Homo sapiens: one gene and its partner. The protein of the gene in region 1 purifies or fractionates together with the protein of each later gene. This does not show direct contact. Each region holds a gene or a part of one and is shown on either strand. Other genes may lie near its edges.

The links.
Region 2: the proteins of SERPINB2 (region 1) and LPP purify together in Homo sapiens (affinity purification with mass spectrometry; 2 studies listed by BioGRID and IntAct, with this or other methods). This does not show direct contact.

The regions. Positions count from the first base shown.
Region 1 is NC_000018.10:63,882,884-63,890,723, reverse strand, and holds the start of SERPINB2 (plasminogen activator inhibitor 2), read right to left. Parts: upstream 3,020-7,840; 5' UTR 2,954-3,019; exon of another isoform or gene 1-2,953. UniProt on the Homo sapiens protein: Inhibits urokinase-type plasminogen activator. The monocyte derived PAI-2 is distinct from the endothelial cell-derived PAI-1.
Region 2 is NC_000003.12:188,885,152-188,891,194, reverse strand, and holds the end of LPP (lipoma-preferred partner), read right to left. Parts: 3' UTR 524-6,043; downstream 1-523. UniProt on the Homo sapiens protein: May play a structural role at sites of cell adhesion in maintaining cell shape and motility. In addition to these structural functions, it may also be implicated in signaling events and activation of gene transcription.

The DNA of each region.
Region 1 (7,840 bases):
TTACTGGGAGGACTAGAAGACCCCCTTCTTCTGCCACCCCACCAGGTAGAAAGTCAATGCCAGGCAAGATTGCAGGGATAATCCTTAATCCCAGGCCTATGAAACTCATGTATACACCAAGGTATGAACCATCTGAGACCTTCCCTGACCTCAGGCTCTGCAGGCAACTGAATGCATGCTCACACCCAAGGTGTGTGTGTTTTTTGGTCCTGACCAATGATCGTCTTTCCAGCTGTATGTTTTGCTTTCATCATAGCTTGCAACATACCCGATAATTATCAAAATATGTAAATATACCAAACAATGCTGATACTGATCATCCCTCAGGAAACCTTCTTATGACAGTGCCTTCCCCGAACTGGGGAGGGGCTGGAAGTACCCAGGAGGAAGCATGTCCTCTGGCTCTGGTCTTGGCTGTGTACACCTGTGGTCTCACACAGCATTGCTCTCCAACAAGGACCATTGGTCGCTTCTTTCTTGCGTGAACCCTTGATTCATGAACTCTTTTTTTTTAAGAAAGTGATTGGAATTTATTTGTATTAAAATGTCTCATTTGGAATACAACCAGACTATTTTATCAAGACAAAAATAGTAAATTAAATAAAACGTATCCCTAAAACTCTCTCACCTCCTCTCCTCGTTTAATCTTTGCAGAATCTGTATGAGGTAGAGGTGATTCTCCCTATTTTATAGATTATATCCTGATGCTCAGAAACATTAAGTAACTTGTATAAGGTCACACAGCTGGTAGGTAGTGGAGCAGGGATTCAAGCCCAGGTCTGTCTAAGGAAGCCCACTCTTTCCAATGTTCCACATCGCTTCACTCGGTGGTGCATAGCTTCACTATGAAGTGTAAGAGCTTAAGCAAGTTGTAGTGCAAGAAATGCTAGAAAGAGGAAGTCAAAAGAAAAAAGTAGTAAACCTGTAATTCTACTAGAAGGCTTATTAGGAAGTAAAAACAAAAAGTCACTTTTTTTTTCTCTTGCTTCATCATAGATACTAGATTACATTGGATGGCTCAAAAATTTGTTCCTCTTCCTCTTAAAATTGTCTTCATAATTAAATAGATTTATTGTACAGATTTTTAAAATTAATTATCTCAATATCTTTTGGAAACAAACTGAGTATTAATAACACAAATAAAATATTTCTCGATCCCCATGTGAGAAATGTAAATAAGAGATCAGAGCCACAAACATAAATTTAGACTTCTCCCATACCTAAATACGTGATTCTTTGTAACAATTCATACCGGATTCTTTGTAACAATCCACATAGTAACTTTGATAGTAAAAATATTTAACTCTAAAGACAAACTAACAGAAAGTTCTGTTAATACTAAGTTAGAATTTAAGGTAACTTGATAAAGAAAAAAATTAATAAGAACAGAAGCAAATTTTCCTGGATGCATTTACTTCTTTCAAAAAAGATAGTTTCAATTATATTTTTAAATAAGGTGTAATTAATTACATTTAATGTAAAAATAATATTTGATGTCTGTATGGCAGTCACCAAATTCCTTCAGCTCCCTTTTCAATTTGCATAATTACCTGTCCAGTAAGGCTTAGTAATTTCTGTAATATGAATGAAAATATGAAAATAGAGATTGCACAGCTGGTCCATTTCAGAAGCCTAGACTGGATCACAGACTTCTGATTCCAAGTCTAATGCTTTCCTACAAACTTTTCAAATAAGGTCTGAGAGTTTCATAATTTTAGAAATCTATGAAGGCACCCATATGCAGTGTTTCCTGACTCTCAGATAAGGCCATACTTTATGTTTGAATGAAAATCTTTCAAAACAAGGCAAAATTGAAGTCATGGGGTATTGTGAAATACCACAGCCTCCTGGAACAGGTATACCTGTTGTGAATTTTTTAACATTATAGTAATTTATATGATCTCATTAACTTCCAAATAGTATGCTCTTAATTAAGGTTTAATAGTATTACTGGGATGAATTAATGGGAGTAATATGCAGGGTTGGGCTTCCTGGTGGTGTGTGTGTTGGTTCCTGCAACACAAGTTGACAAATGCACCACTGAAACTTGGCACAGGGAAGGAAGAATTTGGGAGGAGTCACCAGGCACACGGCCATTGTCTCTCACCCTGTTGGCCCTGGATGTTAGATTGGAGTTTGCTGTAGCATTTAAAACAAATTTTGTTTACAATTAGACAGTGGAAATATTTTGAAATTGACCACAAAAATTAATGAGAACTAAGAGAAAACAACAGTTTCAAGGGAATATCTCATCAAATACTGCTACATCTCCCCCAACAGAATTAAAAGCAATTTCTCCTAGTTGATGGCTTTCATAATGAATAAGTATCTTTTTATGGGATATTAAGTTATTTACTGAACCATACTTCAGTCAACCCTGCAACTACTTTGGCTGATTATTCTCTTTCACTAAATTGACCCATTATTGAACTAAACTCAATAAACATATTGTTGTACTAGATTGACCCAGCCCAAATTGCTACTTAATTTTTGCAGTTCCTGCTTTTTCATTTAAGGTGCAAATGAAGTCTTCTTTTCCTATTATTTATATACAATGTAGAGATTACATTCAATTGCTTAAATGAAAATATTTTAATGTATCTAGTTGTTTCCATCAAATTTAGTGTCAAAACAGTAGCTAGTAGAGAACATATATAATCTAATCTGTTCAATAAAATTGGCATCACAATCTGAATGTACATTTTGTTTTGGTTAATGCTACAAAGGTATTTGTTGGCTTCTGAGATTCAAAATTAAACCTTATAAATTTAATTCAAATCTTGAAATAAAATATTTTCAATTCAACAACTAAACAAGAAAACACCACTTAAATTTTACTCGCCCTCTACAAACACCCCACATCCAAATTTTCAATCTATTAATACCAGCATGAGGGAAGAGAAAACATGAAACCCTATTTCCCATAGACATGGCATGGAAATCATTGAAATACCTGGTTGTTCTCTGGTTATTCTCTGAGTTGCTGTCTGACGGGCAATGCTCCTCTGAGAGTTGTTACAGTTCAGACATGGTAATGACTGGTTTTATACAGCTTTGCCCCTCCCACATGGCATTTTTTTTTCTCCCTCTGTCTTTTGATCTGTGTCCTTTGAGTGATTCAACATTTTACTCAGGAAGACATCATTAGAATAGAAATACTTGTTTGTAAAGGCATGGTTTAAGAAATTTTGGGGGAGGATGAGGTCACTCTGAAACTTAAGAATTTGTCAATATCTACACATGCCTGTGAAAGTTAGCTAAAATCTGTCAGCCCCAGTTTCAAGATTTCCCCCACTATACTTGTGCTCAAGGATAGTATCAAATTCTACAATACTTCTTCTAGCTTTGGACAACCATGGCCTGTGGGCTTCTTCCAATATATAAATATAATGAGATTTACTCTCTCTTTTGAGCCTAGGGAGACCCAAGCGATGCTTAGGGCATGGGAGGGAAGAAAAAATCCATTTTCTGTCTTAGAAATTCTCTATTTTAATCTGTCTTACATTGTCTCAAGCTGTAATTTTCGAAATAACTCGGATTCTACCCTAATATCCTGACACAAGAAGAATTTTTCATCTTCTCTTGATTATAAAATAGATCTTATGGCCGGGTGTGGTGGCTCATGCATGTAATCCCAGCACTTTGGGAGGCCGAGGCGGGAGGATCACTTGAGGTCAGGAGTTTGAGACCAGCCTGGCCAGCATGGTGAAACCCTGTCACTACTAAAAATACAAAAATTAGCTGCACGTGGTGGCACACATCTCCAGTTCCAGCTACTTGAGAGGCTGAGGCAGAAGAATCACTTGAACCTGGGAGGTGGAGGTTGCATTGAGCTGAGACTGTGCCACTGCACTCCAGCCTGGGTGACAGAGTGAGACTCCATCTCAAAAACAAAAAATAAAATAAAAAGAAAACAGATCTTATCCTTTATTAGGAGCCATTGCCCTTTTACACGTGTTAAGTGCCCCTTTGTCCTTAGTGCTCTTCTCCCGTGAGTGCTGAGGAGTCTGGTGGTGAGCTAAGTCCCTTCTTTCTTTTCAGCCTCTGTCCAAGAAGACCCCTCTGGTAATGTCTATGTGACCAACCATCTGTTTAACTGTTTTTTGTTTTTGTTTTTGTTTTTTTGAGATCGAGTTTCACTCTTGTTGCCCAGGCTGGGGTGCAATGGCGTGATCTCTGCTCACTGCAACTCCCGCCTCTTGGGTTCAAGTGATCCTCCTGCCTCAGCCTCCTGAATAGCTGGGATTACAGGTGCCCACCACTACGACTGGCTAATTTTTGGTATTTTTAGTAGAGACGGGGTTTCACCATGTTGGCCAGGCTGGTCTCAAACTCCTGACCTCAGGCAATCCGCCCACCTCGGCCTCCCAAAGTGCTGGGATTACAGGTGTGAGCCACCGGGCCTGGCCTGTTTAACTGTTTTTTAACCACACATTGACAGCTCAACAAGTTGGGACAGATATCAATGTACCTAGAACTTCCACCACCCTTTCCTTCACTCACTTTTCAGGTGCTACTCTTTCTCACCGTATTATTTTCATTCCAGTTATTCTCAAGAGGAATGTCATGCTTCTTTCTCCCCACTGACTCACCTGTGAGGTTTGATTCACACCCCATAACTTCCATGGAGTCCATTCTGACTCTTACAACCCTCAGTGAACTTCTACGTAGAACTGCAACTTTCAGAGTTCAGGATGTGGTATAGGAATCTTATATATTCTGACAGTATCATCTGAGTTAGGATCTATCCACAAATATATACTTGGTTTCCCTTGAGCAGCAAGAACAGTGGTGAGCATCAAGCAAATTCTTACCAAATATTTTTAATGGGTGGAGTAACATGCTAAAACTCTCTAGAGAGGCCCTATACTGTGGTGAACAAGGATATGAATACTGAGAGACTCAGAAAAGTCTCAGACTCAGAATCTTCTTTTTGCCATTTACTAGTTGTATAATCTTGCACGTATTTCTCAACTACTCTAACTTCTAATTTTCTAATAATTCTATACAGCTGGTACTGTTGATTGCCTACCCCAATCAATGCCTTTCTGCTACCCTTCTTCCTAATTTTCTTCGGGTATTATTCAGAGAGCCCTTGATCTCAGGAAAGGAAAGCCTAGCTGCCAGTCTTGTAGGGGGTGTGTGTGTGTTGGGCAGGGTGGGGGTGGGTTGGAAATGGGTGGACATATAAACCCAATTCTGGACAAAGCGTTTTGGGAGAAATCCACTGGGGAATGTTTGGCAAAAGGTTTTCTTTCCTTAACAGAAGAAAGCATGAAGAAAGAACCTCCATATCTATACCATCCCTTCCTACCCAACTTTGAGCATGGTTGTGCGAGGATGTGATGCCAGAAGATGCCACAGTCACAGTCATATTTCAACCATATAGGAAGACTGAGAAATTTGCAGCGATCCCAAACAAGAGCTCTGACATTGGCCAGTGCTAGAAACCACCTACCTCTAGTTTTTGTTCTTGCTGTTGCTGAGATATTATAATAAACAAGTCTGTATTGTTTAAGCAGCATTCGACGCTATGGGTTCTCTGTCATTTGCAGCCAAAAGCATTCTAAATAATACAGGCTGCTGTGAATAATCAACGAGATGATGCCTGCCAAGTCCTTAGCAGATTCTCGTTGGTAGTGAGTGCCGCATAATATTAGCTGATATATAATAGGGTGACTCTTAGTGTCCGGTTTGGGAGCTGCCTTTCTGCCTAGATTAGAGCAATTTATGAGCTCTAGTATAAGAAGACTAGACTTTCACACCTCAAACAACTAGAGAGACTTGTAAAAGATAATATGTAACTTAAACCCAAATTGAGTGGTGCTAATAGTAAGTATCATAGAAAGAAGGGAAACGATTGATAATGTGTGTTAGGGTCTTGAGCAAAGAGCTGAGATAAATGAAAAATAGACAATAGAGAGAGGAAGGCACTAATATTATAGAAGTGGGAAGCAAAGATCATCGAATAGCTTCCTGAGGTCTGTCTGGATCCGAGTTGGTGTTATAGAGGAGGAAAGGAGAAAAGGAACAGATCTTATAGAGGAGGAAAGGAGAAAAGGAACAGATCTTATAGAGGAGCCTTTGATCTCAGGCTGAGTTGGGATCTAAGCTAAAGGCAGTCTACTGTAAACTCTGGAGAAGGGAAGTGACTTGTAAAAAGTGGTGTTTTATGAAGAAAAATCTGAAAATTCAGAAGAGAAAGAATCTAAAGGGTGAGAAATGTATTAGGAGACTATAGCAGTCACCCAGCCAGTAGGTCAACTAGAAAAAAAGCACAGTCACTAAAGAGTGTTCCTTACCAATAGAAAATACATCAGATTAAGCTTTCTCAAATAACCTGAAATAATACAGGCAACAATTGCAGAGCAGGTCACTCCTACGGAATATGAGATTAATGAAACAGAAAGTGTCTTATTTTCTAGGAAAATGTATACAAGATAATCATAAGGGGGAAATGAAAGGAAATAAAATTATATGGACAGTATGATATTAATTATATAAATACAATACATGCAGAAGAAATATTACTTAACATAATATTTCTTCAAAACATAAACAGGATTTATGTCTAAGTGGTAACTTTATAGATTTACCATTGTCTTTCTTTGTACCTTAAAAAAGTCCCACATTTTCCATAATAGGCATGCATTACTTTTAAAATCAGAAATAATTTACCAAAGTTTCTGTATTGAGGTGTTTTTTCTCTCCTGACTATCACTACAATGAATCATATATAAAGGAGAAATAATTTCCAAAAGAAGACAATAACTTTATAAGTAATAAAGTTCTAATATCTAATCTGAGACTTGCATACACTGTGCTTTTTCTTTGAAACATCTAACCAACTGTGATTGCATAACCTGTGTAGTTTACTCTTCAGTGCCTATCTTCCCTGCTGGATGGTAACAACCATGAACTCCAAGACTATAATGGTTTTCCCCAGTGGCTAGGACAGGCATTTGGCTCATATTAGGTGTTCACTTAGTGTTTGCTGAATGACTTACTCATGTTTGGCACATTGTAATGCATTTCTATCCTCTTCACTTTGAAGAGCAAACAGTGATACTTCCATAATTACCTATTTTACATGATTTGTGGATATATGGGGAATGTACAAATTAGGAAAATGCATCATTTCTGTATCAGCAGTAATATCACCACTGAAATTATCTCAAACATGATATGAATGTAGGTCAAAAGAAAGTCCTATTTTAATATAAAATTCTATATAATAACCTTATTTTTAATGACTTCCAGTTAGACATATTGAAACTATGTTAATTTATAGCAAAGATCATTAGTATTAATTAGCCTTAGTAGTTAGATAGCATGATTTATTCCAGAAATTTAAGTAGTTGTTGCTGTGAGCCGAACCAAATGGAGGTGAAGGCAGTCACCTCCATGGTGTGAATTTGGGACATCTTGGCTAAAACATTCTCCAATATACACTTTTTGAAATCTCTTTATCAGAGAATAAATTAGCAACAACACTTTGTTTGTTAACGGCTTTGGGAGAAATATTACATGTATCTAAATTCCTGTGAAGCGGGTTTTACAGAGAAAGGGGTGGTCCAGGAAGGAGTTTCGGGGTGTGTGACGAGGATAGGAGAATGAGAAGGCTTTGAATAAGCATAGGCTTAGGCCACCGGGAGGCAAGGTCCCGAGAGACAGGGCAAAGAAAACAAACCTCACCTATTTTAAGAAGTGGCCCTGGGCCAGCTATGAGTGTGAGAAAGTCTGCACATGAAGTCAGCTTTGTTAGGGAGTGTAACACCTCTGTCGAAGTACTTATCTTGTTACCAAGTGACAACCGCAACACAGATGCCAAGTTGATAGG
Region 2 (6,043 bases), on another chromosome or scaffold:
ATTCCTTTCCTTTCCCCATAGGTATTTGTATCCATATCTATCAGCTTAACTAGACTATAAACTCATTGAAAGGAACTATATGTCATTGATAGCTGTATTGCTCAAGATGCCTAGTACAGAGGAAATTCTCAATGTTTGAAAAGCATGCGTAATACAGATGGAATAAAAGTATGAACAAGTCAGCCACTTGTTTGTGATGAAAATGGAGAACCCCAACCCCACCCTAAGGGACCCATTTACTTGGATCCAGCTTTAAAAATGAAAATGTCTTTGCAAGGTCAAGACACAGAGTGGTCAAATAATTTTAGAACACCTCTGACCTTAAGTTCTTCTGTGCTAACAGTGGAAGAGAGTGGGTGCTTTCATACTCTTGTGGCACCATATTTGCTATGAGAGATATTCCGTTTCTCAGAAGACCATATGGAAAGCAAATGATGTAAAAAATGAGTCACACAGTAAAGGGGGTTAGAAGAAAAGGAAACAGAGATTATCCAACTCAAAAAGAATTCCACACATAGGCAAGTAAATGTAATAAGAAGTTTATTGGATTTCTAAATATAATAAAGTAGTTGCAACTCTTTTACAGAAAAAAGAAATATAATTTCCATATTCATTCTTATAGAGCATTGAAAAAACATAATTGGTAGAGAAAACTGATAGAAGGTAAATAGAAAAACAGGTTTTAATATAGTCAGATAATGCATAAACACAAAAGAAAATACCTAAATCACTTGCTTATAACAGATTTTATTCTCTTATTTTCATACTGAACTATGTGTGCTATTTTGGATACATCAGTGATGGTTTGTAATGTAGTGAATAAATGCAATTTGCTAAGAATACAAGAAAAAAGAGAAACCTATATTTTAGGAATACCATGGCTCTGTCAGTATCACACATATGAAAATAGACATATTCTTTATATGTTTTTGTGTGCCTTTCCCTAAGTCAGGGAATGTTATTCAGACTAGCAGCTCATCACGGTGGGGCTATGATTGTGCTTAGCTAGTAGGAAGTGCTGCTCTTAGTAGACACATTTAGCATAGAGAAAACCCGGCTTCTCACCATCTCCGCCTTATCTATCCACTTGTAAACACCATTTAACCTTTACATAAGACTATCTTCCATGGTCATAATCATCAGATTGAAACTCAGAGCAAAGCCATGCTGTGTTTCTTCCCAGTCCATTTGTTTCCAAGGAAAAAAAAAATCTCTGTATCCCAACATCCTTATGACATTACACTGAAATTTTTGAACTCATTTTCCAGCGCTAAAATCTGATCCTCTAAAAAATAAAAAAAATGACTAGTGTGGAAATTGGACAAGGTAAAAACAGAAAAGGAACATCAACAGGAAGAGTAGGCATTTTTAGTGAAAAGTATCACCCTTTTGCCAAAGAGTCAACTGGATTCATCCAATGATGATGACTAGAGCAGGGTGGTCACACTCTTGAAATTATGAAACATAGCTGTTCCAACCTCACCCGTAGCTTATGTAATGGGGCTCCTTATATGGAAAAGAGAATGGTGGCTGACTGCAATGGCATGGAGTCCATCTTCCATAGTTTGTCCCCTTTTACTTCCATTTGGTAAAACTGGGTTAGGTAGGAGACAACTTTATGACCAAGAGGACACCAAGAGCTTCCTTGGATAAAGGTTAAGTGGAGGTATCTTGCTTTGCCCAAACAGAGGCATATTCAAGTGAATATGGAGCCAACTGACTTAGAAGGAAAGGGAACGACTTGGCAAGTGTAATCTGCCAGCTGGTTGAGTCAGACGACACATTGAGAACGATCTTTTTTGGAATCATGTCCTCCCTTCAACCCTTCTCCTACAATCATGCACTGTCTACCTCGTCCTATTTACATGGACCCTCTCCTATTGCCACCTCTGGGTAAGAATGCATCACTCTAGGCTATGCTGCTGCTCCATCAACAGTATTGACAGTTTTGTCAGTGATGGAACTATGGAAACAAAAGCCATCAAATAACATACACTACTATTTTTAGGAGTCAAAGTAATGCTCTAAGGATCTGGCAAGGACATTTGGCCCCCTGAGCTTCCAATCCCCACAGCCAAGACTTTTCTATTTTCTCTCATGTTAGCCTGAGAGACAAAAGGAGAAGGAATGTGCTGACACTTTAACACTCTAAACCCACCGATGCTTAGTTTATAGAACACACATATGACACACATCCTAATACAGACTACGGCTCTATTAATTCTCTTAAACATCTTTTTTTTCCCTAAATGTTTCAATGCCATAAAGCTTACATTCCCTTGAAGCAGAGTACAGGAAACCTTAGCAATATGCTACCATCCAGTAGGATATAAATATAAAGAAGCTGTATCAGCAAGGGATGCTCAGGGAATGTGTTTGCAGCCCGTTTCACGGTAGCCGCTTGAGAGGGGATATTGGAAGTGAGTGACTTTCTTTCATTTGGCAAAGTTTCCTTATCTCAGCACCTACTCTTTCTGATGGTATGTTTTTGAAGGCTGCACAGTACGACTCTGGGTACCGTGTGTACATACATATGTAAGGAATAACGTTTATGTTGCTCAGAATAGGCACTTTTTGAAGGCAGTAAATCTAAAAGTAAAGTTAATAGAGCCTATATTTAGTGCTCATCTTCTCACTTTGCTGATGTGTATGCTGAACAGAAGATCACAGATTTGAGTCAGTCTCGCAAAGAGGCCGGAGTCGGCAAATGGCTATATTCAGAGCTGGGGAAGTCTTGCCAACTTAACTGTAGCTGTTAAAAAGGCAGACTTGGAGAAGGTGCAATCGTTTTTCTCAAAGGTGACGGCACAGAAAGAGAAAAGGCATGAAATAAAAGCCTGTGTGCGTGGCTCAGGGAAAATTACTATCCTCAGGCTCTGTATCTTCACGCCACATCTACTTCATGGCACAGATTTGCTACTTAGAAAGTCCTTTCCCTTTCCTTTTTTGTATGTCTCATAATTGCACATATTCCCTTACTTAGCTGTAGAGAAAGAGAAGCCCTAAATCTGTTAGAGTAATGATAAAGGTGTAGGTTAAAAGACAAAACAAACAAAACAAAAGTGGTTTATTATACAGAAAACATGCAAAAGCTCAACGCTACATCCAACTGTAAAGGTTTCAGGTCTAAGTTTAAATTTTCACTTAAGGCACATTAAGCCACATGATAATTTTATACATGCCAAATAATCAGACAATCAAGTGTCATGTTTAATTCTATTTGCTCTTTGAGATATTTCTTGAAAAAGAATGAGGGCATAATTCAGATTTTCAGAGGGGAAATATTCTGACTTTGCCTAATAAAGAAATGAGTCTTGGATAATTTGCTCATCAGCTTTCCCAAGAGAGGAAATGGGTAGTAAAAGGAAGAAAGTCTTTTAAAAATAATTTTGCTACTACTTTACTATAAAGTCTTGGTGACAAGATTTAGTTTCTAGGGTCCTAAATGTCTTTCATCAAAGATACTCCTCAGTTCAGACTTCTCCATTATGCTAGAAGGATGGCATGGTCCCATGTTAGTTTCAATTTGCTGCCTACAGAGGGAGGACCAAGGCACTTTAACTATTTTTGGCACTATAATCCTGATATGTTGATGTATTTGACACAATTCTAAAAACTAAGCTCAAAGTATATAGGATTAGTAAAATGCAAACTCTGCCCAAATACCAACTCCCCATTTATTATTTGAAAGTTAAAACATGAGGCCATTCCTGTCGTTGGCATTTAAATTATAAAAATCTCTTTTACTCTCAAAGTTTATGTTTGAAGGAATGAAACACATTGGGCAGATATATCATAACCTGCTCAAGCTACTCTCCTATTTCCAGTTTATAATTACTAAGTGAGCATTGCTGTCACCCAAAGAGAAAGAGAGAGAAGAAGGAACTGACTTTTTCCCTTTTATACTTAACGTCTCCCAAGAAAGAATAAAAAAGGAAGAAATGTATCTAAGAAAAGCTAGCTCTTCCCATTTTGCATTTCTTAAACTAGTTTGGAAGCAGAGTTAAACAATTTGGGGGTGAGGAACGACATTCAGACTTCATATTTACTCTCTTGTGATGAAGGAAAGAGTCAAGATAGTAACGATTACTGCTATGCCTCGGGATAAAGCACAGCAGGCACCATACAAAGTGGCAACACAATACATCAATAATGACCAAGAATAGTTCTTTACCCTTTTCCCAACAGATAGAAATATAAAGAGAGAATCACGCATGAGAGATAAATACCTGTTTCCACCCCCACCTCAAATTGCTTTGGCATATTTTAAGAGATAAATGGATCCACACAAAATTTAACTAGCTTTTTCTTCTCCTTTTTAGCTGTTACAAAAATGGGTCAGGTTTAGGATTTATTAATTTTCTGGCCTGAAAACCCAAGTGCTTAAAAATAAGATTTATTTTCTGAAGGATCAGCTTTCTTGGAAGGGGTGTGTGTGTGTGTGTGTGTGTGTGTGTATGTGTGTGTGTGTGTGTTTTGAAGACAATACAATTGTATGATCCCTAAATATGGGAGAACATATTATGTAAAGTGAAATACGAAAATTTTTATTAGTTTTTTCTTTATATTATGTGAAGATAAATTAGATGATTTATAAAGGTATTTGAAAATAATGTTTTTCTAAAAGGCTGCTTTTTTCACATTTACCACCTCATTGTCTTTTTATTCCCTCTGATGAGACAACACAGATTCCACCCATGTGAGTCTCTACTCAGGCATACTAGATAATTCTGAGAAGTGCTCAAATTGTGTCTTCTATTAATCCATTCCTGGGGTGGGAATACTCTGTCTATTCGACAAGAATCATTTTCCACTCACTGGCCACAATATTCATCAAGCCTCACAGGGAGGTGAGGCACTTTTCTTTTTTTTTTTTAATTTTATTTCATTATTATTATACTTTAAGTTTTAGGGTACATGTGCACAATGTGCAGGTTAGTTACATATGTATACATGTGCCATGCTGGTGTGCTGCACCCATTAACTCGTCATTTAGCATTAGGTATATCTCCTAATGCTATCCCTCCCTCCTCCCTCCACCCCACAACAGTCCCCAGAGTGTGATGTTCCCCTTCCTGTGTCCATGTGTTCTCATTGTTCAATTCCCACCTGTGAGTGAGAACATGTGGTGTTTGGTTTTTTGTCCTTGAGATAGTTTACTGAGAATGATGATTTCCAATTTCATCCATGTCCCTACAAAGGACATGAACTCATCATTTTTTATGGCTGCATAGTATTGAACAGACACTTCTCAAAAGAAGACATTTATGCAGCCAAGAAACACATGAAAAAATGCTCACCATCACTGGCCATCAGAGAAATGCAAATCAAAACCACTATGAGATACCATCTCACACCAGTTAGAATGGCAATCATTAAAAAGTCAGGAAACAACAGGTGCTGGAGAGGATGTGGAGAAATAAGAACACTTTTACACTGTTGGTGGGACTGTGAACTAGTTCAACCATTGTGGAAGTCAGTGTGGAGATTCCTCAGGGATCTAGAACTAGAAATACCATTTGACCCAGCCATCCCATTACTGGGTATATACCCAAAGGATTATAAATCATGCTGCTATAAAGACACATGCACACTTATGTTTATTGCGGCACTATTCACAATAGCAAAGACTTGGAACCAACCCAAATGTCCAACAATGATAGACTGGATTAAGAAAAGGTGGCACATATACACCATGGAGGTGAGGCACTTTTCTAGTCTGTGAACGTGCATCTCAACCAAAGCCACCACTCTCCCGCTCCCATTAATGTCGCCCTTATTCCTCAGGCATGAGGACTAGGAAGGGGTGAGAAGTCATTTGCTATTTAACTTGGCTCTCATTAGTCCCAAGGAATAAGCAGGTGGATGATGATACTGGCTTGATGGATGATAACACTCCAGGGAGGGAAATGCATAAAACACTTATCAGGTGTGATTATTTTAAAGGATTCTTAGATTTAATGCAGGAGATTTAATGAGAAGAAATGATATTTTTTCTCTCACTTCACATATTTTAGGATATAGCAAACAATGAAAGGAGTGA